Homo sapiens: one gene and its partner. The protein of the gene in region 1 interacts with the protein of each later gene in a biochemical or structural test. Each region holds a gene or a part of one and is shown on either strand. Other genes may lie near its edges. The genes, in order: SHROOM1 and MCAM.

The links.
Region 2: the proteins of SHROOM1 (region 1) and MCAM form a complex in vitro, tested with the Homo sapiens proteins (one study listed by BioGRID).

What each region holds. Positions count from the first base shown.
Region 1 is NC_000005.10:132,827,137-132,843,015, reverse strand, and holds the start of SHROOM1 (protein Shroom1), read left to right. Parts: upstream 1-12,368; 5' UTR 12,369-12,422; exon of another isoform or gene 12,423-15,408; 5' UTR 15,409-15,555; exon of another isoform or gene 15,556-15,879. UniProt on the Homo sapiens protein: May be involved in the assembly of microtubule arrays during cell elongation.
Region 2 is NC_000011.10:119,303,189-119,314,701, forward strand, and holds the end of MCAM (cell surface glycoprotein MUC18 precursor), read right to left. Parts: coding exon 11,491-11,513; intron 11,389-11,490; coding exon 11,301-11,388; intron 9,825-11,300; exon of another isoform or gene 9,762-9,824; coding exon 9,582-9,761; intron 9,461-9,581; coding exon 9,339-9,460; intron 9,241-9,338; coding exon 9,078-9,240; intron 8,983-9,077; coding exon 8,864-8,982; intron 8,762-8,863; coding exon 8,620-8,761; intron 8,464-8,619; coding exon 8,342-8,463; intron 8,234-8,341; coding exon 8,092-8,233; intron 7,998-8,091; coding exon 7,902-7,997; intron 7,716-7,901; coding exon 7,568-7,715; intron 7,279-7,567; coding exon 7,161-7,278; intron 6,728-7,160; coding exon 6,698-6,727; 3' UTR 5,341-6,697; downstream 1-5,340. UniProt on the Homo sapiens protein: Plays a role in cell adhesion, and in cohesion of the endothelial monolayer at intercellular junctions in vascular tissue.

The DNA of each region.
Region 1 (15,879 bases):
CAGTTCTCTTGGGGATAGACCAAAGAGTGGAATTGCTGGGTCATATGGTAACTTTCTGTTTAATCATTTGGTGAACTAAGAAACAGTTTTCCAAGTCAGTTGTATCATTTTACACTCCCAGCAGCAGTGCGTGAGGTTTCCTTTATATCCTCCTCAATACTTACTATCTGACTTTTTGTCTTATAGCCATTCTAGTGGGTATGAAGTGGTACCTAATTGTGCTTTTGAGTTGAATTTGAGGTTGAGCACCTTTTTTAGTGCTTATTGGCTATTTGTAGATCTTGCGAGAAATTCAAATTCTTCCTGTTCAAATCCTTAGTCTATTTTTAAAAATTGAATTGTTTGTCTTTTTATTTGGTGCATTGTAAGCTATTAAGCATACTAAGGTAAATCTAATTTAGGGAAAGCATTCACTATTTCAGGAAGACCAGAGAGTTGCAGTTTGGCTTTATTATTATTATTATTATTATTATTATTATTATTATTATTGAGACGGAGTTTCACTCTTGTTGCCCAGGCTGGAGTGCAATGGTGAGATCTTGGCTCACTGCAACCTCCGCCTCCTGGTTTCAAGCGATTCTTCTGCCTCAGCCTCCCGAGTAGCTGGGATTATAGGCATGCACCACCATGCCCAGCTAATTTTGTATTTTTAGTAGAGACGGGGTTTCTCCATGTTGGTCAGGCTGGTCTCAAACTCCTGACCTCAGGTGATCCGCCCACCTCGGCCTCCCAAAGTGCTGCGATTATAGGCGTGAGCCACTGTGCCCAGTCTATTTTTAATCCTTTTCAGGCACTTATAAAGTTTTCGAAAAGAACGCTTGTTCACAGAATAATTATAAACAAGGACCTACCACCATCACTAATAAAGGTTATTAATCCAATCCCAAGAACCAAGAAAGAGGATCTAGGCCGGGCACGGTGGGTCATGCCTGTAATCCCAGCACTTTGAGAGGCTGAGGTGGGTGGATCACCTGAGGTCAGGAGTTCGAGACCAACCTGGCCAACATGGTGAAAACCCGTCTCCACTAAAAATACTAAAATCAGCGTGGCGTGGTGGTGCATGCCTGTAATCTCAGCTACTCCGGAAGCTGAGGCGGAAGAATCACTTGAACCCGGGAGGCAAATGTTGCAGTGAGCTGAGATTGCGCCACTGTACTCCAACCTGGGCGACAAGAGTGAAACTCTGCCAAAAAAAAAAAAAAAGAAAAGAATGGGGTCCAAATGAACTCTCTTGAAAGTCCTTGCTTCCATTCATGGCAGCACCTCCCTAGACCTCTCATTGCTGTGCCCAAGTGAGTGACCAAAGCAATCTGCTCTGAAAAGAAAGCAGCTTCTTAGGGTATGGCAAGTCACATCTTTTTGTCAAAACCACCAAGAGGAGAGAGTGATATAGGAAGTGTGGTGACTTGAAGGAAATGACTGGCCCCAGGGTCTAATGTTTTTTTAGAAGTTGGTTCAAGGAGGGTGGATCACTTGAGGTCAGGAGTTTGGGACCAACATGGTGAAACCTTGTCTCTACCAAAAGTACAAAAAATTAGCCGGGCATGGTGACTCATGCCTGTAATCCCAGCCACTTGGAAGCCTGAGGCAGGAGAATCACTTGAATCCAGTAAGCGGAGGTTGCAGTGAGCTGAGATTTCGCCACTGCACTCCAGGCTGGGCAACGGGGCAAGACTCTGTCTCAAAAAAAAAAAAAAAAGTTGGTTCCCAGTGTTACAGCTCTTAGAATTTGTCTAGCAGGCTTTCTGGTTTTTGCCAGAAAGCCCCAAAAAAGTTAAACAAAAAAGTCAGTTCCCCAAGTGAGGGCTGACAATGAGTCTGCTCATGGACAGAGCCATCAGGCCCTGGCTGATGCCAGGGCAGAGAGGGGCTGTCAGCAATGGCTCTTGGTGGAAGGAGTACTGCTGATTTCCTTTCTGGCTCCTAGGACATGTGTTCACTGCCTCTTACCTTAAGTATGGGCCAACTGGTACATGAACACTCAATAATTGCTTGCTAGTTAAATAAGTCCTTTTATTCAATTTAATCACTTCCCTAGGAGGGCCATTTGGTGCCTTAAATGCTGTTTGCATGGACTCTCCCACTCCCATACCCCCCACCAACACACATACGGGGCCTGGAGGCCAAGGCCATTCTTGGCATGTTGCTATCAACTGTGAACTCACAGAATAGAGGAATGACACAGCTGTTCACATGAAGTCAGGTCTCCCACATTCATTTTATTCAACAAACTCTGAGATTACTTCTGAGCCTGGTACTGCCAGGCATAGTCCTTTCCATCAAAGCACTCACTATAGGTCTAGTGAGGCAGACAGACAACTAAATGACCACATACTCTCCAATGCAGTATTATGTAGGGCTGGGAACAACGAACTCTACCTGGGGATATCAAAGAAGGCTTCACTGATGAGGTGATACTTGGCTCAGGGGTCATGTAACTCAGCATCATGATGGGTTCTTATCAGGGACATTTGCTAGTGGGGAAAGGAAGAAAAAAGGAAACTTCAGGACACACCCAGTCCCCTGTTGGGGTAACTATGGGATGGACGCCTATGTCTCCTCCCTGGCCTGACTTCAGCTTAGTCTTTTTGCCTATGCTGTCGAGCAAAGAAAAGGTAGAATCAAGGTCAACCCTCCTTAGTACAGCAAGAGGAAAAAGCAACCAATCTCCACATTTTCTTGCCTTTGTTTTGTTTATCAAGGGAAATCTTGTTCTCATTTTTATGGCAAATGTTTATGACTTTGAACCAGGAACTTGCCTGCCTTGTATTTCTCTTGCACTGCTTTATCCTGTTTCCTGAGTTGCTAGTTTTGAGATTGTGTAAGCGTTGTTAGAGGATTTCCAGCAACATCAAAGGGCAGAGACACTGCCTCCCCTGAACCCTGGGGCAGCTATGGAAATCTCTCTTGCCCTCTTTGCTAGTAGTTGCTTTTCCCAGGGAAAGGGCAGCTCTCAACACCCAAATCTCAACAGGCTGGATTTTCCTCTTGCCTGGCAGTATGAAAAAGGTGTCTTGGCTCCACATTAGAAACTTCTTCGTTTCAAACAATAGCAAGCAGCTCTGCCTGACTCATTCAAAAAAGGAATGTATTGGGAGGAGACCTAGTGGTTCACAGAATTGACTAGAAGGCTGGAGAACCAGGCTGTGAAAATAAACAAGAACAAAGGAGGCTGCGCAGCAAGAGCAGGGGACAGGCCGGGATTGCTACTGTCCTTGCGCCTCCTGACTCGTGATCATTTCTCACCTGTCCCAGTGTCTCTCTTTTACTCACGTAAGAGTCCCAGCTTCTGGAAGAAGCATCAAATTGATTAAGTCCAGGTCTCAGGCCTGTACAGTGACTGGGCTGGCTTTCAAAGCAGGAGGGGGAGTTCTGTCTCCCCAAGACTTACACAATATGAACAAAGTGTTTACAGCCCTGTTTGCCGGAATGGTGAGTGAAGCTTAGGAGAGAAACTACCAGCAGCATGAGCAACACCTATGGGAGACCCCAGGTGGATAAACCAGTCCTTAGAGAGAAAATTGGGACTGGGGTTTAGTTGAGATTGTATTTCTCAGGAGAAACTCAAGTGAGGAATAATGATAACTAACATCACTTATTGGTGGCCCACTGTGAGCCTGGCACTACTCTATGTGATCAAATCTCCTTTAATCTTTATCTGGCAGGTATGTAGTATCCTTGTTTTACACATGAGGAAATGGAGGCTCAGGAAGGTGGGGACATCTCCAGGTTCATAGAGCTACTGGTATTCAAACTGAAGTCACCATACTTTGAAACTCACACTCTTTCCTACTTCACTGATTTTCTATCTCTGGGATACACCAAATTGAAGAACACCTTTCTCTCCCTGTTTCATTTTGAGAAATCAAGGGTGGGCAATGAGCCTGTCTATAAATCTGTCTCTGCCACTCCTAGGCAGTTGCTGTCAGTTGCCCTTTGCCCCATAATTCATTTGGTGTCATCCAGTTAAGAGACACATTCCCCTTTCATCTTGCTAGGTGATTTGCTAGGAAAGTCAAAAGTAACTTGCTATGTTGTTTTTTGTTTTGTCTTTTACTTTTCTTGCTGCTTCCCTTGAAGTAGAAAAAGCTGCTAACTAGGACCTAAGGACCCTGCCAGGGGTAAATGTGACCACAAACACAGTGCCCAGACTGTGATGAATGCTGGGCATACCCCCGGGTTTTAGAACAAAGTGTCCTCTATGTGAGTAACTGACGAGATACACCACAGTTAAAATCAGGAAAGTTTTCTAGGTGAATGTTTAGGGCATGCATTCTCAGTCTCCTGAGCCACCAGCCAAAATTCATCCACATGCACATAGCATGCTGTGACCTAATTCTGTACCAAGTCCATCACGCAGCTTCTGTGTGCAGCCTGGGGTCCAGAGCTCACAAATTGGATTTTTCTTCCATTGAATATTCTGGGTGACTCCTCAGCAAGCAGAAATCTGGGAGGTTTAGCTCAAACAGAATGACAGTTTTAGGAGAGGGGCTTTTTAGAGACTATCTCATCCCATTTTATGATCTGGACACAAGAGAGACAGTCTGGCCATTCCTGGGCCTGAGGAGGCTGTTGCCTTCTCTAAGCAATGCTTTTGGGGCCGAGTTCAGAGCCTGAGATAGTTTCTTTTCTTGAAAACCAAAATGAACCTTAGGGGACCAGAAGAGCAAAGTGGAAAAGCTTATTTGCCCACACCTATCTGTCCGGGGCCCACTGAAGTTGGCAGAGAAGAAGAAGCCTGTATCCATCTTTTTCATGAATCCTCTTTTGTCCAAGGATGTGTGAGTAACATCTGAATGAAGACCACAAGGATGGAATGGTTTCAGGCCTGGGGCTGGGGGCCAGGCTGGAGTAGAAAAGTTAAGTCATTCTGACCAAAGCAAACAGAGGCTGGGTGTCACCCAATGTCTGCAGGGAAAAGGTGACATATGTGTACTTAATGGGGATGTGACAGCCCAGCACTCCTTTCCAGGAAGTGCTGATCTGAAAGGGAATCTGGTTCAATCTCTGGAACAGTCAGCCCTCACCCAGCCTCACCAAGAGGCCCTGCCTGTCAGGTGTCCCCACCGGCGAAGGCAATCTTCATTCTCCCTGCACTTCCTTCTTGTGCACTTTCTACTTTCCTATAAAGCCCTATCTTTAGACAACTGTGGTGAATTCAGTGCATAATCGGAAAGCAAACAAACTTACCCCAGAAGAACATTTACAGTTTAGGTAGACATTTGTGTATAAGCAATAATTCACGCTTTGTTGAATTTCTAAAAATAAACAACATGATTTTGTTGAAAGGTTTCTGACCTCTAATATACTTTAACCAGTACATTACCATCTCTGAATTATTGAGACAGCTATGTAGCCCAGCTATGTAGCTGCTGCCTAAAAGAAAGATATCTGGGCTGGGTGTGGGGGCTCACACCTGTAATCCTAGCACTTTGGGAGGCCGAGGCCGGCGGATCACGAGGTCAGGAGATTTGAGACCGTCCTGGCTAACATGGTGAAACCCCATCTCTACTAAAAATACAAAAAATAAGCCGGGCGTGGTGGCAGGCGCCTGTAGTCCCAGGAGAATGGCGTGGACCCGGGAGGCGGAGCTTGCAGTGAGCCAAGATTGCGCCACTGCACTCCAGCCTGGGCGACAGAGCAAGACTCCATCTCAAAAAAAAAAAAAACAAAACCACATCTGTTGCTTCACCTATGAACTACAGATCCACTGTTAAACCACACACAAAATCAAAGGACACAAACTTGGAAAAATATTTGCCACACATAGGAAAAAGTGTTAATCACCTTAATATATAAAGAGGTTTTTTTTTGTTTTGTTTTTTTGAGACAGGGTCTCACTCTGTCACTCAGGATGGAATGCAGTGGCACAATCATGTCTAACTGCAGCCTCAACCTCCTGGGCTCAGGTGATCCTCCCGCCTCAGCTCCCTGGAGTAGCTGGAACTACATGCATGTGCTACCATGGCCAACTAATGTTTGAATCTTTTGTAGAGACAGGCTGGTCTCCAACTCCTGGGCTCAAGCAATCTGCCCACCTCAGCCTCCCAAAATGCTACTAGGATTATAGGCATGAGCCACTGTGCCCAGCCCTAAAGAGGTCTTACAAATCAATGAGACCAATAATCTAATAGAAAAATGAGCAAAGAAAATTGACAGATCCCAGATCACATACAAATGGCTTTAAAATACACAAAATGGTGTGTAGTCTAATTTATAATATATGCAATATAAATTAAGACAGATATTATTTTTACCTTTCAGATTTCAGAGATCCAAAAGTTTGATAATGCACTAGGCATGGTGGCATGTGCCTGCAGGGGCAGGCTGCTTGCAGGGGACAGGCCCAGGAGCTGTTGGCCACAGCACTCATTCTGCAGAAGGGAAACTTGAGGCCCCAGAGGGCAGGGGTTGGTCCCACAGAGACTGGTGGGCAAAGGGGATCACCCCAAGTCTCAATGGCACTGGGAACACTTACACACTCTGACCTGGACTAAGGCTGCCAGGATGGTCCATGGCACTTTAAAAGCTAAAAAGGCCAAGCACAGTGGTGTGCACCTGTAGTCCCAGCTACTGGGGAGGCGGAGGCAGGAGGATTACTTGAGCCTGGGAGTTCAAATCCAGCCTGGGCAACACAGCAAGACCCCGTCTAAAAAAAGGTTGATAATGCACTGTGTTAGTGAGTGTATTAATGCAATCCCACACTGCTGTAAATAAATACCTGAGACTAGGTAATTAACAAAGAAAAGAGGTTTAATTGGCTCACGGTTCTGCAGGCTGTACAGGAAATGCAGATTCTCACTTCTGAGGAGGCCTCAGGAAACTTACAATCATGGTGGAAGGCAAAGGGGAAGCAGGTACCCTTTACATGGCCAGAGCAGAAGCAAGAGAGGGGGAGGGGTGGGTGCCACATACTTTTAAATGACCAGATCTCATGAGAACTCACTCACTATCATGACCAACAGGGATAGTGCTAAACCATTCATGATGAAACTGCCCCCATGATCCAATTGCCTCCCACTAGGACCCACCTCCAATATTGAGGATTACAACTGAACATGAGATTTGGGTGGGGACACAGATCTAAACCATCTCAGTGTGCTTGTATACATTTTTTATGGGACTGTAAATTGGTATAGCCTCTTTGTAAGTGTGATTTGACAATATCAATCAAAATAGAAAATTCATGTACCCTGTTACAGTTGTCTATTACCATGTAACAAACTACCCCCAAACTTAGTAGTTTGCACTTTTATAATTATTGTGCTCATGTTTTTGAGGGTCAGAAATTCAGGAAGAGCTAGGCTGCGGAATTCTTCTCTGATCAGTATGGTGTCAGCGGGGGTGGCTGACACTGCAGGATTCGCTTCCAAGATGGCCTGGTTACTTGCCTGTGCAATGCCTAAGTGCTCCTTGGCCTCTCTTTTCCCTCTCCACATGCTATCTCATACTCCTGGGCTTCTCCATATAGCTTGTATTTCTCATAGCTTAGTGGTCTCAGAGTAGTAGCACTACCAAGAGGCAAGAAGTGGAAGCTACCAGGCCAGTTAAAGGCTATGTCCAGAACTAGCCCAACATACCTTCTGCTACATTCTGTTGGTCAAAACAGTTACTGTCACCCCTAAGCTCATTATCCAAGGGGATGGAGAAATAGACCTCACCTCTTCTGGGTAGAGTAGTGGCAAAGTCACATTGTAGAAAAGCTTGGGAGGTGGAAAATTTTTTCATGATTGTCTTTGTAAAGTACAATCTACTACCTACACTTTAACCCACCAATTCATCTTTTAGAAATTTATCCTGTAAGTGGACTTACAAATGTGAACAAAAATAAATGAACAAGGGTATTTGTTACTAAAATAGTAATAGCAAAAGACTGGATTAATCTAAATGTCCAATAATAGGGTTATTTAACCCAATTTATTTGTGCCCATGCAATGCATAGCTATGTGCCTGTCTTAAAAAACAAACAAACAAACAAGAAAACCTATGTACTTACTTTGAATAAACTCTAAGATATACTTTCAAATGAAAAAAATAAAGGTGAAGGCTGGGCACGGCGGCTCATGCCTGTAATCCCAGCACTTTGGGAGGCCGAGGTAGGTGGATCACCTGAGGTCGGGGGTTCAGACCAGCCTGGGCAACACGGTGAAACCCCATCTCTACTAAAAATACAAAAATTAGCCAGATGTGGTGGCACACCCCTGTAATTCCAGCTACTTGGAAGGCTGAGACGTGAGACTCACTTGATCCCAGGAGGCGGAAGTTGCAGTGAGCTGAGATCACCCCACTGCACTCCAGCCTGGGTGACAGAGTGAGACTCTTACTCAAAAAAAAAAAAAATTTTGTTTTGGTAGAGACTGGGTCTCACTGCATTGCTCAGTCTGGTCTCGAATTCCTGGCCTCAAGTGATCTTCCCACCTCAGCTTCCCAAAGTGCTTGGATTACAGGTGTGAGCCACTACACCTAGCTCCATCTCTATTGAAAAAAAAAAAAGTACTTACAGAAAGAAATGTTTTTATAAGTCCTTTACAATAAACCCCTGGAAATCATATATGAAACTAAGCCCTCATATGTGTTGGACTGTTGGGGACACACAGAGATGGGGAAGTCCTGTTTGGAGTCTCACTGCTGCTACTGTCTCATCTTTCCCGCTCGCTTGCGAGTTCTGCTCAATCTGAAGTCCAAATCCTGCTCTCCTAGGAAGGCTGCATTGATATCCACAACATACAGTTCTTTACACTGCTCATGTTTACATGACAGCATGGCCTTTGGAACCAGACATTAGGGGGTTAAGTATTGCCTCTACTGCTTATTAGCTACCTGACCTTGACAAAATAATGTCTCTAAGTCCCAGCTTTCTCACTTGTAAAATGGGGTTATACTGATACCTACTTCTGAGGAGTAAGAGGGCTAAAAAGATACATAGAGCACTTAGCACAGTGCTTGGCACTAAAGAAGTGGTCTTTAGTATTCCACTCATAGTCACATCACATTAACCATATCCAACAAAGAGAGTGGGCATCAAAGCAAGAAACCACAGGGACTTGTGAGGTGGGCAGTTGCTTTGCTTTGGTGTCATCAGTTCAGATTACAAGTGCCAAACTATGTGGAGTGGAGGCCCACCACCTCCCCACCTATCAGCTCCTTGATATAGGGCCTGGCCAGGAACAGCAAGGTCTGTGGCTCTAATCCCAGCTAAACACAGCCATCTAAGGGTCTCTTCAAAAGAACTCCCCCAGGCCTGAGAAAGTATTGAGATACTGAAGGGTGCAGACACCTCTCTTTATGTATTGGAAGCATATGTGCATGTTTCCACCCTCTCCATGCACACTCACCCCCCAACCACCATCACTAAGGGAGACTCCAGCTTTGTGGCAGTTTCTTCCCCCTTCTCTTCTCCAAGATTCTCTGTGCTTTTGTAATAATGAGATAGGAAGTATCAGTGCCCCCTAGCCAAAGACCACCACGAGCACACCTGTAGTTGAACAAGTTGGGTTCATTGCTTGTTGAAGTGAGAGAGGACACGTAGCATGGGAAACCACGTGGCATCTCAGGAAGAGAGCATTGGAAAGGACTTAGAGGATCTGGGTTTGGGTTAGTGCTTTTCAAGAGGGTTAAAGAAGCAGAACTTTCCTTTGTGCTGGATGCTGTCAAGAAGCAAGAGTAATTCTATGATTGGGTATATTAATAAATCTTATCTAGAAAGAGGAATGATTAGAGTGAGGCTAAAGCTGCAATTGGTAAAGAAGCAGCAGGTACTCACATTAGCTAGGACAGCAGGCACTCATTAGCTAGGTCATTTTTGTGACTTGGACAATGTTCATGCTTTTGTATGTGTTAGACATGATTAGAGTGCTGTTGTTTTTGTCTTGATCCATCATTGTTAAAGAACGGCCCTGTCTCACATTGATGCCCTGTGAAATGGCTTATGTCCAATGGGACAACAGTAAGGCCTTGCTGTGAATGTCAGGTCAAATTCTGGCAACACCAAGGTCCAGCTGGGCCTTTCAGATGTTAGGGGTTACTTTTCTCTTTCTCAGAACAGAAGAGGTTAAGAGAGACGTGGGTAGGTGGGATTTCAGTTTTCTGGGGACTTAGGCAGAGAGTTGCTTAGTGTGTGCAAGAGGTGAGCGGTAGGTGGGTGGAGTGGGTTAATAAGAATCGCTCTGGACTGCATCCTCATGGTCCCTAGCAGAGAGTTGCTTAGTGTGTGCAAGAGGTGAGTGGTAGGTGGGTGGAGTGGGTTAATAAGAATCGCTCTGGACTGCGTCCTCATGGTCCCTAGCAGAGAGGTGCTGTAGTGTGTGCAAGAGGTGAGTGGTAGGTGGGTGGAGTGGGTTAATAGAATTGTTCTGGACACTGTGTCCCCATAGTTTTCAAGAAATATAAGTAAAAAACATAACCATTTTTTTTTTTTTTGAGACAGAATCTCACTCTGTTGCCCAGGCTGGAATGAAGTAGCGTGATCTCGGCAGACTGCAGCCTATGCCTCCTCGGTTCAAGCGATTCTTGTGCCTAGGCCTTCCAAGTAGCTGGGACTACAGGTGCGTGCCACCACGTCCAGCTATTTTTTTTTGTATTTTTGTAGAGACAGGGCTTCGCCATGTTGCCGAGGCTGGTCTCGAACTCCTGAGCTCAAGCAATCTGCCCACCTTGGCCTCCCAAAGTGCTGGGATTACAGGCATGAGCCACCGCCCCAGCCAACATGAGCAATTAAAAATTTTTTGTTGTTGTTTGCTGGGCTGTCTTTCTTCTATTTTGATGCTGCTGTGAGACTCTGTGGATCAGGGTCTTAAAAATATTAAAAGTCTTTCAGGCCGGGTGCGGTAGCTCATGCCTGTAATCCAGCACTTTGGGAGGCCAAGGTGGGTGGATCACCTGAGGTCACGAGTTTGAGACCAGCCTGGCCAACATGGCGAACCCCGTCTTTACTAAAAATACAAAAATTAGCTGGGCGTGGTGCCCGGTGCCTGTAATCCCAGCTACTTGGGAGGCTGAGGCAGGGAAAATTGCTTGAACCTGGGAGGCGCAGGTTTCAGTGAGCAGAGATCCGGCCACTGCACTCCAGCCTGGGCGACAGAGGGAGACTCTGTCTCAAAAAAGCAAAACAAACAACAAAAGTCTTTCAAAGCCGAAAGGTTCTTAGGCACTGTCTTAAAGCCTAGCGCTCCAGCTGAAGCTGGTGCCTGAGTCCAGATGGTGTTGAAGAAGGAGCAGGGCCCAGCGGGCACCACTCTCAGAAGTCGGGCTCAGGTGTCTCCTGCCTCCGAACCCAAGAAGACCCAAGAAGACAGAGTTCCTCAGGCTCCCAGTGTCCCTAGGAAGTGGCAACCTTGACTCTTGGCCAGAGTTCAGAGTCCTGGTTATTAACACCAATAAACCTTTATTTGCCAGGGATACTACCATGGGAGGACACAGCCCCTGAGCCCAGCCCTGTTGATCCTGTGGGAGCGGGAGGGCAGCGGAGGACAAAGGCAGAGACCTGAGAGCCGGAGAGGCTCATCAAAGGGTCCCCAGCCCCTCTCAGGAACGGAGCATTTCTTGGCAGAGTGGTATTCATAGGACAGAGTTTGGGAAGTCGGGGCAGGGGAGCCTGAGGACACAGCAAGGAGAGCTCAGTGGCAGGTGCAGGCAGAGCGTTCTTTGGAAAATGGAGATCCTGGAAGGTGAGGGCCTCGAGCGCCAGTGTCCAGCCTTAGTGGGTATGCATATGTCCAGCTCCCTAAGGACACACTCAGGACAGCTAAGGTGCACACAAGTCCAGGGGCTTCCCCGTGCTCCGCCCCCCTCTCCCCCACCCCGGTAGCAGGCTGGAGGGCCCAGACCATGCTGGGTAGTGGGAGAAATGGAAAGAAATGGGACAGGGAACAGGAGACAAGAGCCCATGGTGGGAGTCAAAGAGCTGGAAGAGTTTTGGAAATGGGGGTCTGGGGGTAGAGTTGATCAAGGGCCGAGTTACTCAGCGGGACAGGTGGGAGGCACGAGGCCCTGGCAGCTCTGTTTTCTTGGCCGGGCTTGGGGGGGAAAGCGGGTAGCCGTCAGGCGCCTAAGGGCCCGCCCTGGACCTCCCCACCGAGGGAGGTGTCAGGCCCCGAGGGACCCGGCCCCCGAGCATCACGGACGCGCTGGAGGCCGGTGGGCGGTCGCCGTAGTCGCCCTCCCACCACCTCGCTCAGGTTTCTCCGGCCTGGGGCAAGAGGCCTGTGGCCCGCGCGGGAACGCACTGTCCACCCTCAGACCTGGGACTGGGCCGGCGCGCGGACGCTACCAAGAGGCTGCGGCTCCCGCCCCCGCGGCCGGACGTGGCGCCTCCCCTGAGGCCGCGGCCGGAGCCTGGAGGTGGGGTCGGAGTCAGAGCCCGGGGCTCTGATGTCACCGCGCGGCTGCGACGGCCCAGGAGCGCGTCTCGGCGGGAGCCTCAGGTACGCGGCGGGGGCGGGGGAGCGGGAAGCGGGCGGCTGGGTCCGCTTCCCCCGGGAGGCCGGCGGGGCTGCGGGCGGACGGGGGTGAAGAGCGGGCGGCGAGGCGGTGGTCGCGGGGCAGCCCGGGCATCGTTCGGCCGGGACGTGTCTGGCTCGGCGCCGCGTCAGGTTGCGCCAGTGGAGTCGGACCCCAGCGCGCCTCTCCCAGCTGCAGAGCTGCAGGGCGGAGAGGCGGCCCACTCTAAGCTGGCGGCGCGGCTCAGGGGCGCGGCTGGGCGCGCCGCGTGTGGCGCCGGCGGGCAGCGCGGTCTCACTCCGCCACCCTCCGCTCCTGCCCTTTGTCGCCAAGCATCTGGAGAAGCCGGGTCCTTCCCTCCCGGGCTCGCGCTGTCCCCTGCGCGCGATCCTTCCCCGACGGTGAACCCAACGGGAAAGGCCCAGAACTGCGCGGGGCTGCGGCCATCTGCTGTCGAGCCGCTCCGCGTGTCTCTGCCGCCCCCTGCGGCCGCCGGGGCCTGCGCCTCTCTCCCTCCCGTGCCTCGGCTCCCAGAGATTGAACCCCAGGTAACCGGGTCTGTCCACGCCCGCGGCCGCCTCTCCCCGGGTGTCGCCAGCTTCCTGCATTTCCTGTGCATGGCACGGAGCTCGGGTCTCCAGAGACTCTGCATCTGGGGTGCAGCGACCGATGAGCCCGTAAACCAGTCGCACACTCGGAGCGTGGATGCTGCGTGGGGTGCGCTGTCAGCGCGGACAGGCTGGGAGAACGGGGGACGCTGGGGACAGGGAGAGCCGGTGAACTTCCCAGAACGTCCGCCTAGCCAGACCCAGCTGCGGGTACTGGGTTTTGAGACGTGGTCCAGTACCCAGGAACTCAGTCTGACAGGGAGACAGCGCCTACACAGTGAGCCCAGTACTGAGGGAAGACCCGCTGGGAGGGGCGGCCTGGATAGCCCCTCCACAGAGAGGTCAGATGTGAGGTGGCCTTGAGGGAGGTATGATGTAAATCCTGATCATTCGTTGTATTTGAGGCTGTCCGTTCTCCTGTGCCTCCTCGGTCGCCTTACTTGGATCTGTTCCCATTGCCTTGGTGTGATTTTATCCACCGGAAACTGTCTTCAGCTATTTCCCCAGTAACCTCTAACTAAAAACCTGGGTCTTGCCTGGTCTACCCTCCCCTGCTGAACTCCAGAGCCACATCCCAACTGCTGCCTGACTTGTCACAGACACCATGAAGCCCAGACTGAAGGAGCACTGGCCCCCTTGACAATTCCTCAGCCCCAGCTCCTCCTTTCAGACTGGTGCCTCCACCTGCCAGACCCCTAGCTTTGAAGGCCAATCTCATCTTCGTCTCCTTCCTCTCTGGCTCCTTCATTCAGGTGACAAGTATACATCAAATGCCCACCCCAACTCCCCCTCCCAGGACTCCAATCTGGTGTCTTTCTAGCGGGGAGTCTAGGTTGCTCCCTCTGCTCTGGAGAGGCTTGGCAAAATGCCTGCAGAGCTCCTTGAGCTCCACCTCTGAACTCCCTTTCAGCAGCCGGCACAGGCATAACAGCCCAGCCCACAGGTACCACTGCCACTGAGGCAGGGACCCCTAAGGTAGGGCTACCCCCAGCCACAGGGGCTGGCTGGACTGCAAGAGGCTCCCTGCAGCCAGACAAGTATGAAAATGCCTTGTTGTTTTGTGCTGAGGCCCCCCAAAACACACCAAAGCAGCTGGGCCCTCTTGGCATGGTAGGTTCTGCAAAGCACCCACTGTGAGGAGCCTGCGTGAACATCAACCTGATAGGGCCACCAGTGCAAAAGCATCTTCAACAAGTTACAGTCAATAAGGAAACACATGTGTAGACACATTTTTATTGCCCATTCAAGCTGTTTTTATTTGCTGAATTCAGAATCCTTTAACATAGTAACTCACAAATAAGATAGATTTTCATAGATTTTCAAGACCTCTTTTGAGGAAACATCTTGTGTTTGGTGATCCCCATCTGTAGCTGCAGCAAGCCAAAATGGGCAGGATGGGTGACATGAGCTAGTGCTCCCAAGCTGGACTCAGAAAGAGTAGGAAGAGAAAGGGCTAATGTCTGAGCAGTCGGGTGGGCTTCCTAGATGAGGGGACTGTCCTCCCAGGAGCTGCTACTCAGAGTAGTTTCTTGTCCTCCTAAAGTTTAGAGTGGAAATACTTTGCAAAAGAGGTCCCCAACCCTAAGTGTGAGGGCTAAGCTCCTGGGCTTAGTAGGCATATACAAATGCCCCCAGGTGGGTGACATCAAGATGTTCTGGTCCTAGGTCTGCTGAGAGCCTCTCCTGGGAATGTTGTAGGTACTGCCTTTCCCTTTTAGGAAACACCATATCCTCCTACCACTAACCCCCATCCTTGCCCTAACCAGCAATCTGTAACATCCTGGGCCTCAGGGACGTGGGTGGAGGGTGACTCTGAGCTCCAGATAGTGTCTAGGAGGCTCAAATAAGCCTGCTTTTTGGTCCTCACCCTAGCCGTGGGCCACCCTACTCTGCACTCCCTACCAAGCAGCTCAGAGAATGGAGGCCAGCGCCCAAAAGTCTCCATAGTTCATAGGGAGCCCCAAACCTCAACACTGCCCTTTCCCAAGCCTCAAAATTTCTCTTACCCTGACCCAGGCACACCCACTCAACTCTTACCCTTGATCCCCCTCCCAGGACCAGAAGGGATTGATTTCTGGTGAGTCCTGCCCCAAGCTGTGCTTGCCTGCTCTGTTCGTACCTAATATTGCATGAGGAACCTGGCCAGTGTCTATGGTGGCAAGTGCTTCACCCATTCTGTCCTCTTCCCCAGAAAAGACTAATAGGGAGGGAAGAAGCGTGCGCAGAAGCTAAGGAACTCTCTTCCTTCTCTACCAAGGCCACCCCTACATCTACTCCCTGCAAATCTGTTATTTCCCTTGACATTCAGCAAATATTTGGGGTTTTGTTTTGTTTTGTTTTGTTTTGTTTTGTTTTGAGACAGAGCCTCACTTTGTCGCCAGGCTGGAGTGCAGTGGCGCGATCTCGGCTCACTACAACTTCCGCCTCCCGGGTTCAAGCGATTCTTCTGCCTCAGCCTCCCGAGTAGCTGGGACTACAGGCGTGTGCCACCACGCCCAGCTAATTTTTGGTATTTTTAGTAGAGATGGGGTTTCACGATGTTGGCCAGGATGCTCTTGATCTCTTTACCTAGTGATCCGCCCACCTCGGCCTCCCAAAGTGCTGGGATTACAGGCGTGAGCCACTGCACCCGGCCCAAATATTTAACATTGACTGTATGCCAGGGACTCTGCTGGGCACTGAGAGTGCAGCAATGAGGAAGAGCAGGGCCCATTCTCAGGAAGCTCAGGGGTGGGAATGGGAGGAGGGAATCAGAAGCAAGCCAACAGGGACAGTGTGGGGTGGGGGTCAGCTCAGCACACTGTAGGAGTCCCAAAAAGTGAGGAGACCTCTA
Region 2 (11,513 bases), on another chromosome or scaffold:
GTTCAGCAATGGTGATAAAGCAGAATATTCTCCTACCTCACGTCATTAAAGTCAGAAGATTATAGACCTTCTCAAACTATAAGTCCCTCTTCTTGCCGTTGGCCTTTCTGACTCTGGAATGACCACTGTTCATTGAAAAATAGTTTTCTGACTATTGGTCTGGCTCTAACAGTTTGTTTGTTCATCCAGCAAATGTTTATGAGTGATGACCATGTGCCAGAAATGTCAGGTATGTGTCCTTCCCTTGGCGCCACATAGTAGTTTACTAATGTTTGGGGGATTGTACTTGGACTGTCATAGCCTCTGCGTTTGACCTTAAAATAGCTCTTCCCAGTAAGATTGTGCAATTTTTATTCACAGCTCTTCCATGTAGACTTACCTTTCCTCATAGAGCTATCCTGGTTAATAACAGGCCAAGATTCTCCCATTATCCCCTGTTGTCTCCTGTAGCTTTGATAATGCCTGGGAGATTCCTTGGTGTAAGTGTCATGGATACCGACTGTTTTTATGTTGGAATTTGTTCCAACATAATTAGAATCTGTTTGGTGAGTTGAAAGGTAAGTTGGCTCAGAGTTGCACAGTAGGGCATTAAATGTTTAAGCAAAGCATCTGCCCACACTCCCCTTTCCAATCTAGTGCCTTCCTTGAACTTTTTCCTGAGCTGCTACGTCCCTAATCCCCCTTGTTGGGAGGATTTTCGTATCACCCTTATGGGACCTGTCACCATGTCCTGTACTATTTGGAATTGGTTTTCCAGTCTTTCAACAACCGTTGTGGCTAACTATGTTTTAGAAGGGCTGGAGGTGTGGGCCCTGTCTTCGGGTCTCAGGACCCAAAGATCCTTTAGTCAGTTGTTGGGTCTTCCAAGAGCCAGACATTAATACAGATTGAACTCCATCAGTCCCCTAATTGTCAGCCTTTACCTCCCTCCCAGAGCAAGGAGTTTAGGGATTCTAAAGCTTAGTGTCCACACATCATTCTACCAGACCTTAGAGCTTTAGAAGCTCAATCTAAAATACTGTAACTCAGCATAAACTATTACTATCACTCCTTTGAACTCAGTCTCCATGAGCAGTGTTTTGTTGGAAATACATAGAACGGCTTAATGCCTAGAGGGTGGTGGATAGTGAAGGACGGTCAAGGTTATATTTTTGACTGCTTAGGGATTCTTTGGATCCAAGAAACAGAAATGTTCAAGCGGAATAAAGGAGGGAGTGGAGTTGTGGTAAGGATGCAGGGTATTTCGCAGAACCCAGGACGGGAAGTGCCTTTGGTTCTTGGGTGGAGCTGGAACTGCAGAGCTTTGCACCTAGTCCTTTCTCCCGCTTCACAGTCTGCTTATGGTATATGTGGCCCCCAAATAGGCACTCTAGTCCTCAAGTCTACACCACCTTCCAACTCTGGGGATCACCATGAACAAATTCTCAATTTCCCATACTTAATTTTTTTTTTTTTTGAGATGGAGTCTCGCTGTGTCGCCCAGGCTGGAGTGCAGTGGTGCAGTCTCAACTCACCACAACCTCTGCCTCCCAGGTTCAAGCAGTTCTCTGCCTCAACCTCCCGAGTAGCTGGGATTACAGGCGCCTGCCACCATGCCCAGCTAATGTTCATATTTTTAGTAGAGACAGGGTTTCACCGTCTTGGCTAGGCTGGTCTTGAACTCCTGACCCTCATGATCCACCCACCTCGGCCTCCCAAAGTGCTAAGATTACAGGCGTGAGCCACCGCGCCCGGCCCATACTTCGTATTCTTAAAAAAAACTACACTCAGCCCAGCACATTGATCAAGTATCTATCTCTGAGCAGTTGGCCTTGCCAGGGAGAGCAGAGATGTGGCAGGCTCCTTCAGCTGGAGACAGGGAGCTTCTCAGAGAAGTGAGCAGAGACTCCACAGACACCCTAAAAAGGCTTCTACTCAAGAAGTAAAGCCACTACTCCTGCCTTTTTGCTTAGTGGACAGGAAGGCACAGGAGTTTGTCTGGGACATCATAGAAATTCTTAGGTTTAACTTAATTCTGGTCATTGTCTTCTTTATTTCCTGTTTTTCTTCCCTTTGTCAGTCTTCGCATCCAAGATTTCTTCCCTCCCTCTTGTGGGCCAGCCTGTCCTGTTCCAGAGCTAGCCTGTTCCTGGGTAGCCTTCCTTAGCCTCCATTCAGCCTCAGGTCTTTTGCCTTCTTCCGTGTTTATTTAGAGAGCAGAATCTAATAACGGGTTCCACTGTAGCCACTATCCATGGACTTCTGGGTCCTCTTCAGGTTTGAGTGCTTGAAAATGTTCATTCTCTGGGCTTGTGGCCTGTCTCCTCCACTCTCCTCCTCACCCTCTCGCTCCTTCCTGTGTGAGGGCCGCTCTGCAGTAATGTTCTCAGGCAAGCCTTCCTAGGCACCTCAGAAACTACTTTGCCAGAGCCAGTAAGAATATATAATATTGGAGCAGTTGCCAGGATAGAAATTAAATATAGATTCCAGTTTAGGATAGAGTTTTTACCGAGAGCTCTTTAGACAGTATACCTGTGTCTTCTCTGGCAATTGCTTTCATTTTAGTCCTATATAAAAGCTTTCCTTTTCTGTTTTTTTTTAAAACTATGCTTTTGCTTGCCTAAATCTTTTGATCTTATATTTCTCTCATCTCAGAGCCTGTCCTGAGTTGTAAGGTATTTCATACTGCCTTACTTAAAAGTTTTTTAAACTACTAGAGTCATTTGATACACACAGAAGTTACCTAATAATCCAAAGATGTCCATCAAGGGAGGAAGGGTGGGTCATCAGACTTTGCCTTTGATGTTGTAGACTAGGCTCCTGAGTTAAGCAGCAGAGGGACAGCAGTGCCATGTGCCTTCACTGTGTCCCAGGAAATCTGGGTTGGTTCCAGTGGGAAATACCAGTATTTCTTGGTTCTGGAAAGTAGCAAAAGAGTAGGAGATGGGGAAATAGGGATGGGGAGAGCAAGCCCCGCATGTCCATGGCGAGTCAGGTGGGGAGCACGGGTGGAAGGGCCGGCTGTTGACAGACAGACTAAGCTGTGTGGTGCTCTTGCCGCCCCTTCCTGGGTACAGAGCTTGAGAAAAATGCAGCCGACCACTCCCTGTGTTTGTACAGAGCAAAGCCCAAAAGCCAACCTCAGATCTCCTGATTTGGCAGCTGAAGAAATCAGCAGAGTCCTGATTGCCTGATTCAGTCCCAAAAATGAATGTCAGGCCCCGCCCCCTCCCCACCAACATTGCCTCTCCTACATTCTCCTTCTGCCCCTAAATCAGACAGGAGGCCAGAGAGGAGTATTGCTCAATGCGTGCTATGTGCAACTCCTCAGGCCTTGTGCCACCTCCATGCTGAGCCCTGAAGCAGGGTGTCCTGGGTGCCTGTGTGTCAGCTCCCTCCTCTCTACCTACCTCTGACCTTCTTGTGGGTGAGGGTGGCCATGCTTATGGCCATCTTAAAACTGGAGAGGCAGAGAACTACTTATGAGTCTGTAGACCACGTGTTGTCTTCCATGGCCTGTTTCTCCTGCTGTCTGGGTGAGTGAGCCTGCAACGCAATGCCCATGAGAGTAAATGCCTCCTGACCTACCCTGCTCAGCACTGTTCTAGTGTCTTGGCCTTGAAAGAAAAGCCTGACTTCCTGCTGACACATGTGGTAGGGGCATGGCAGCTATGAGGCACCTCCTACGTCTGTTTTCTGGCTGTGGTGACTTGGGATTTTTAACCTTATATATCTTTTTCCTTTACTCAAAACAAAACAATTTTTAGCACACTGAAAAAAAAAAAAAGCCAAATGTTTTGTGCCTTTCTAAGGCAGCACTGTATCCCAGGCTGCATTTTAGGACTTAATATGGAAATACCAGAGTCTGAGCTCCTCTACCTTGAGTTTCATTAGTCCTTAGTGTCTAGGAGACAGGAAAGAATGCTCTCTGTGACTGGAGAGGTGACATGCAGGTGCAGTGTGTCTGGAGTCCCTTTCCCCTGCTGTGAGACTTCAGTGGAGGAGAGAAGCATTGTACCCTGGGATCATTTGGTTGGTTCCAATCACAAGCTTAGTTATCAGGTTGCATGCCTTGTCTCCTGCAAAAGACAGAATGTTTCACAATTCCCAGGTAAACTCTGGACCATTCCAAGTGTCCTAGCCTTCTGATGACATTAATTACCTAGTTGTGTCGAGGAGTATAGGATGGACTCTCCTGAGAAGGGGAGGTTGGTGGCTTTGTCTTTTCTTTTTGCTGGATCCTGAACTGGTCTAGACCTCCTGCCCCCACCCCCCAGCCCCCATCAGATGTGGCTGGCCTTTCATTTGAAGGCTTCAGACTTAAAGCATTAAGCAGCTAGTGCCCTCTGCAGGGCCTGGTTTCCCCAGGGAAGGGCAGCAAGGAACATGGGACCAGAAGCCTGTCCTCAGTAATGTGACTATAGTGAGCTTTAGCAAAAGTTTTTCTATATAATGACATCTTACTTATCTTTTACCCTTTCCTCAGTTTTCCCCTGCCTTTAACTAATAAAGAATTGGGAGACAGAAATTTTAAAGTCCTCCTTATTCAAGATTTTGAAATTCTTAGCCTGGGAGTGCTGGAGAGAACCTGATGCTTTCTCCAGAATGAAGAGTCCCAATTTGTATATCAGTGTTAAGAAGAAAACAAAACAAACACATAGGTGAGATTTTCGTGGACTATTTTAAAAATGTGTCATTAATATAAAAAATTTATATTAGCAGTATTTAATCATTCTCACCTGTAAAGAATAAGAAAAACAGAAGGTAAATATTCTTACAGAGAATAGCAGAGCTTTAAGATTCATTTTCATTTTAAGTCCATTTTATTTTGCCAGTGTATTAATGTTTAGAAGTCTGTTTTACTAATGTTATTTATTAATTTTTTTTCATTTCCATACACAGTTAGTTAACTAAAGAGCTTTTTCAAGCACCCATGTCTGTAAAAAAATATTTTTAAATAAAGTTTCTTTTGTTGTAGCAGACTTGAGTTCTTGCTCATTCAGGGGGTTGGGAGGCAATACTCGAGTTGCCGTAGGACCAAATGCCAAGGCCCCCTTCCTCATGGCGGTGAGCCTGAGCTGCTGTCTGGAGGGCAGTTCCAAGTGGCAGGAAAGCATAGGAAGGGGACATAGCTCCTGCTAACAGCCTGCCAGGCCCTTCGTGCTGCGTCATCAGGGCAGTTTTGCTGCTGAAAAGTAGGGTGACTGTCTGCTCTGGTAGAACTTGAGCCATTTGCTCAGAAGCAGAGGTAACCCCTGATCTCTGCTGCCAACTGGAAACGGTTTTGTGTGCCTTTTGGTTGTAGTTTCACAGGCCCCCAGGTTCCTGTGGTACCCATGATGAATAAAAAGCAATGTATGATTTCTGGGACAATTAAGCTTTATTTTTCATATATATATATATTTTCATATATATATATACATACATATATAAAGGAAACAATTTGCAAATTTACACACCTGACAAAACCATATATACACACATATGTATGCATACACACAGACAGACACACACACCCGAAGCTCTAGCCAGGCCCGTTTTCCATCCCTAAGTACCATTCTCTCATTTGGGCCCTTCTAGGGTTGGGGCCCTGAGCTTGGTTTGTAGAAGTTTGGTGCTAATATAACCATAGCTTTAATCCCCATGAAGGACAGTGTAGACCTCATCTTTGTCTGCTCCCCGCTGCCTTTCAGTTTTACGTGATCCATCAAGAGGGCTATGGGAGCCAAGTGAACACGGGGGATTGAGGCTAATTCACCTGAACTCGAAAACAGCGCCCAGCTTCCTCACCGCAGGCACGTATCTTTTCTTTTTTTTTCCTCGAGACGGAGTCTCGCTGTGTTGCCCAGGCTGGAGTGCAGTGGCACGGTCTCGGCTCACTGCAAGCTCCACCTCCTGGATTCATACCATTCTCCTGCTTCAGCCTTCCGAGTAGCTGGGACTATAGGTGCCAACCACTACGCCTAGCTAATTTTTTTTTGTATTTTTAGTAGAGACAGGGTTTCACCGTGTTAGCCAGGATGGTCTCGTCCTGACTTTGTGATCCGCCCGCCTCGGCCTCCCAAAGTGCTGGGATTACAGGCGTGAGCCACCACACCTGGCCCCGGCACGTATCTTTTAAGGAATGACACCAGTTCCTGGCTTCTGACCAAAGAAAAAATGTCACAGGAGACTTTGAAGAGGCAGACAGGAGGGTGGTGGCAGCAACACTGCAGCTGCTTCTGGATGCTGCTGGGGTGCTCTCCGGAGCGGGTGTGAACAGCGCACTTCAACATGAGCAGGCGCCTGGCTCCGGTGTGTCCTCACTTCAGTGGTGCACCTGGATGGTGGAAGCCAGCCTTTGGGGCAGGAAACCAGCTCAGAGAGGCTACCCAGCTCAGCTGCTGGCAGGAGCCAGGTATTTACAGCCATAATGTGTGTAAAGAAAAAACACGTTCTGCAAGAAACTCTCCTACCCGCTCGGGAGACTGGGGCTCCTTGCTTGGGATGAGCTTCACTCAACGTGGAGGAGATGGTGGTGGACTGGTCCCTGAAAAGCGGGCCTTGCAGGGCCAAGTGAGGTCCTCAGGTCCTAACCCAGTGGCCCTCTGAAAGGGGGTGTGCAGGCGAGGGGAGCAGGAGGCTTCTCTCTAGTCCCTTTGGAGGCTTTGGCTGAGAGAAGAGTGAGCAGGGAGCTGGGAATGGTCCAGGCAGGGAAGGGAGCTGAAGTGATTCGGGGCTAATGCCTCAGATCGATGTATTTCTCTCCCTAAAAGTGGGTAGAGGAGAAGAGGGGAACACGGAGACGGTGCTGAGTTGAAGGTGTGAGCACCGAGAGGAAGGAGAGATGGAAGCAGAAGCCGATGAATTTGGTGGGCAGCGTTGGGGAGGAAGCTAGGATGGGCATGGCAGGCCAGGGAAGGAGGGCGGCCCCCGTCTGACTGCACTGGTGAAATGGCCACACCCAGAGCCACGGGCATTGGTCAGGAAAAGGTGATGGGACAGGGTCTTTCTCAGTCTTCCTCCAAGCTCCCTCAGCCACTTGCTTGGCCCTGCCATCTGTGAGTAGTGTTAAGAAGGCAAGATGGGGCCTGCTCCCTATCTCTGACAAAGAGGGATGAAGGATAGAGAGAACCGTTAGTCCCTACTGCCCCCGGTCCCTGAGGATGTGGCAGGCTCTGGCCACAGGAACCGCCTCCTACCTGGTCTCCCGGAGCCCTCTTGTCACCGCTGCTGCCCTGCAGGAGGCCCATCTCTTCTGGGAGCTTATCTGACTTAACTTCAACTACAAGTTCGCTCTTACGAGACGGGGGTAGCGTGCTGGGAGGAGGGAGGGAGGTGAGAGGTTGGTATCTCAGGGCCACAGGAAGAGAAGGGCCCGCTGTGAAGGATGTGGAATGGATGAGGGCTCCTTGCTCCAGGGCCAGCCCAGGGCAGGGAAGCAGGTCATGAGACCATGTGGCTGATGGAAGCTGGGCAGTGGGTAGTGGAGCAGGCAGCACCCTGACCCAGGGCCCCACTCCTGCTGTCAAGGGGCAGGCGGGCGCTGGGCAGGCAGCAGGCTGGGTGGCAAAACGGGCGGGGGCGGAGGGGCCGGTGTTGGGCTTACATCTCCTGCTTCCCTGAGCGCCTGCACGGCAGCTTGCCCTTCTTATAGAGGAAATAGAGGACAGCGCCCAGCACCGCCAGGACCAGGATGCACACAATCACAGCCACGATGACCACGCCCCGGCTCTCCGGCTCCGGCAGCTTTCTCTCTGCGCCACAAAGACACTCCTCGTCACTCCCTGCCCCAGGCCACTTCGTCACCATCGTTGGCCCAGCCAGTCCAGGGCCGACAAGATGGGGCTGCTACTCACCTTTCTGGACAGGGCTCTCTGGGGAGGGACAGGGCAGAAAGGATGCCCTGGCACAGCCCTGTTCTCTTGCCAGGCCTGGCTTACCTGTGGAGGTGCTGTTGGCTCTGGTATGAGGACTGGCAGTGGAAGTGCTGAGGCCAGTGGTTGTGTTGGAGTCTGGTGTGAGGGTGGTTAAATTGACTAGGAGGCAGAGGGAGGGGTGTTAGGAGAAGCGCAAGTTACTGCCCGTGCCTGGGCCTGCCCCTGCCATCCCCTGCAGGGATGCAGCCCTCACCCAGCTCCAGGAAGAGGATGCTGGTGTTTTTGCCCAGGTCGTTGGAGGCCGTGCATTCAACACCTGTCTCCAACAGCTCCGGGGTCACGAGGACATTCAGGGTGCTCAGGACTCGCTGTGGATCTTGGTCTTGTTCACTTGCCTGCGAGGAAAGGAAGGAGGCAGCTCAGGGGATGGGGAGGATCTCTGGTCCTGGCCACAAAGCGCAGGCAGGGATTAGGAGAGTGTGGCAGATGAGACACCCGCTCACCGTGCCGTTGACGTTCCAGGAGATGGTGGGCCGGGGGTGCCCTGACGCTTCACAAGACAGATTCAACACCATATTCTCTTTCACCCACACCTTCCTCTCCTTGAATGCCATCCAAGGGGGGCCTTGGGGAGGTAGGGAGAGGTGAGGTGGCAAGCCCAGCTAGCCTGCCTCCCCCTCCGCACCAGAGCTCCCCAGGGCAGCAGGTGGCTTTTTGTCAAAGAGCTTAAAAACCACCCCACTTGGGGTGACCTGGTCTCTACCCAGAGGGAGGGCCTCACCAAAAATGGCCACGTTGACCAGCTGTGTGCGGTTCAGGCCGGGTATGCTGGGCACAGACGCCACGCAGCGATAGCCGCCTCCTGCCTCCCGTTTCAGGTCATGCAACTGAAGCACAGGCCCCCTTTCCAGCACCTGGCCTGTCTGGGATGAGAGATGGGTCAGAGGGTCTGGGAAAGAGCACATTCTTGTCACCGCCAGCCCCACCCACCCCATCAGCCCCTTGCCCCAGACCCGCCTGGGTACCTCTTCTCTCAGCCACTGGAACTCGAGGTCCTGGCTACTCTCTGCCTCACAGGTCAGGGTGAGGCTGCTGCCTTCCTGTCTCTCAGGGGCTGCGGGACTCACTCGGACGTCAGACACATCTGGGGGTACAGCAATCATGTCACCCAGGGCAGGGTGGGGCCAGTTCCCTATTGCCCCAGCCTGGTCCCCCTGTCCTGGGTCCCCAGCCCCTCACAGTTCACCAGTAGTTCCTGTGGTTCACTCAGCAGCGATATCATGGTGTCCAAGTCCAGGCCCTGACATTCATAGCGCCCACTGTGTTCCTTCCGGGCAGGCTCCAGCACCAGGACCCCGTTGTCGTTGGTTGTCTCTTCCTCTGCCTCCCTGGTGCTGGGGTTCTAGGGAGGATTGGGGAGGTGAGCAGAGTGCACCTCCCGCCACTCCACCTGGGTCTCTGCTTGCATCCCCACCTGCACCCAGCACAAAGCCCCCACACCTGCTTGCTGATGCTGAAGTGTGGTGGAGGGTTGCCATCAGCCAAACACCTGATTTCCACGCGGTCCCCTTCCTTCAGCATTCCCACGGGCTCCACTTCCAGCCACACTTTTTCTGTCGGGTCTGCATAGGCAAAGGGGGTAGCTCTTGGCCCATGAGTCAACCCTGGGCTGGATAAGGGGGAGCCAGCAGGAGTTTCCAGCAGCCCCAGCCCCAGTAAGCAGAGAGTCAGGTTAGTACTCACAGAAAACAGGGACGGTGACTTCCCTGGACTCCTTCATGTGGTTCCCACTGGGCAGCCGGTAGTTGAGCTCACAGTAAAACTGGGCATCTTTGTCTTCTTTAACCAGCTGTGCCTTCAGAATACTCTGCAAGGTGTACAAACCACTCGACTCCACAGTCTGGGACGACTGAATGTGGACCCCTGGGCAGGGAGGAAGGGGAGGAAGACTCAGCCTCAGCCCCACCTCCAGCCCCACCCTAGGGTTGTCCACTGGGGTTGGCAGGGGACCATCTAAATAGCCCCCTGTCCCCTGTAGAAGGCCAGGTACAAATGCAAGCTGGAAACCCTTCAACCCAGCACTTTTACTGCTCAGTGTCAACCCTAGAAAAACATTTTCATGTCTGCTCATATCCAAGGATGTGTGCAAAGAATGCTGCAATGATAAAAACGAGCAGCCGTCTAGATGTCCACTAAATGGGGAATGGTGAACTCGACTACCTGCTATGCGTAGTATGGAAAACTTGGCAGTAAGCAAAACGATCAGTTGATCTAAATAGACTGACCCAGAAACATTGTATAAAAGAAATTGTCTAACAATGTATACCATACACCACCACTTAGACCAGGGTTTCTCAGCACTACTGATAATTTTTTTTTTTTTTTTTTCAGACAGAGTTTCACTCTTGTTGCCCAGGCTGGAGTGCAGTGGTACAATCTCGGCTCACCGCAACCTCCACCTCCCTCCCGGCTTCAAGTGATTCTCCTGCCTCAGCCTCCTGAGTAGCTGGGATTACAGACATGCGCCACCACGCCCGGCTACTTTTGTATTTTCAGTAGAGATGGGGTTTCTCCGTGTTGGACAGGCTGGTCTTGAACTCCCGACCTCAGGTGATCCGCCCACCTTGGCCTCCAAAAGTGCTGGGATTACAGGCGTGAGCCCAGCCAGCACTACTGATGTTTTAGGCCACGTTGATTCTTTATTGTGGGGGCTGTCCTGTGCCCTATAGGATGTTAGCAACATCCTTGGTCTCTCTACCTACTAGATGGCAGTAGCACCCCCTCTATGTGTGACAACCAAAAATATCTCCAGACATTGCCAAGTATCTCCTAGGAGGAGGGGGTACAAAATCACCCCTGGTTAAGAATGACTGATTTAGATAATAAAACACAGAAGCCTATATCATTCTAGAAATATTTCTATATATGAGCAAATACATAGAAATAGGCTTGAAAGAACACACCCTGATAGCAGAGATTATTTCTGGGAGGGGGGGTCTCAGGCAAGAAGAAACTTCTAGATTTTTTGTCAGTTTAAATTCTCATGAAAATATTTTCAAGTACCATTTGTATAATTTTTTTAAGTTAAAAGCTTAATGAAAATATAAGGCAGTTCCTGTGTAGTACCATAGGGACAGCTCTTTTTAAGAGATGGGGTCTCGCTCTGTCACCCAGGCCGGAGTGTGGTGGTGCAATCCTAGCTCACTGCAGCCTTCATTTCCTGGGCTCATATGATCCTCCTGCCTCAGCCTCCCAAGTATCTGGGACCACAGGCACACACCACCATGCCTGGCTAATTTTTTTATTTTCTGTAGAGACAGGGTCACCCTATGTTGTCCAAGGTGGTCCTGAACTCCTCACCTCCAGAGATCCTCCTGCCTTGGCCTCCCAAAGCACCGAGATTACAGGTGTGAGCTACCACACCTGGCCCAAGGGTGGCTTTTGGGAGAAAGGGCTACTCACGGTTCTTCTCCTCCTTCAGAGGCCGGCCATTCTTGTACCAGATGACTTGAGGAATGGGGTACCCGTTCCTCCCTACACAGGTAGCGACCTAAAGAGCACAGGGTGTGAGTCTCCCTGCCTCCGAGCCCCCTTCAAGCCCCATCTCAGCGGCTGCGCACCAGCTGCCCAGCCCACCTGCCACACATCTCACCTCCTCAGGCTCCTTACTGTTCA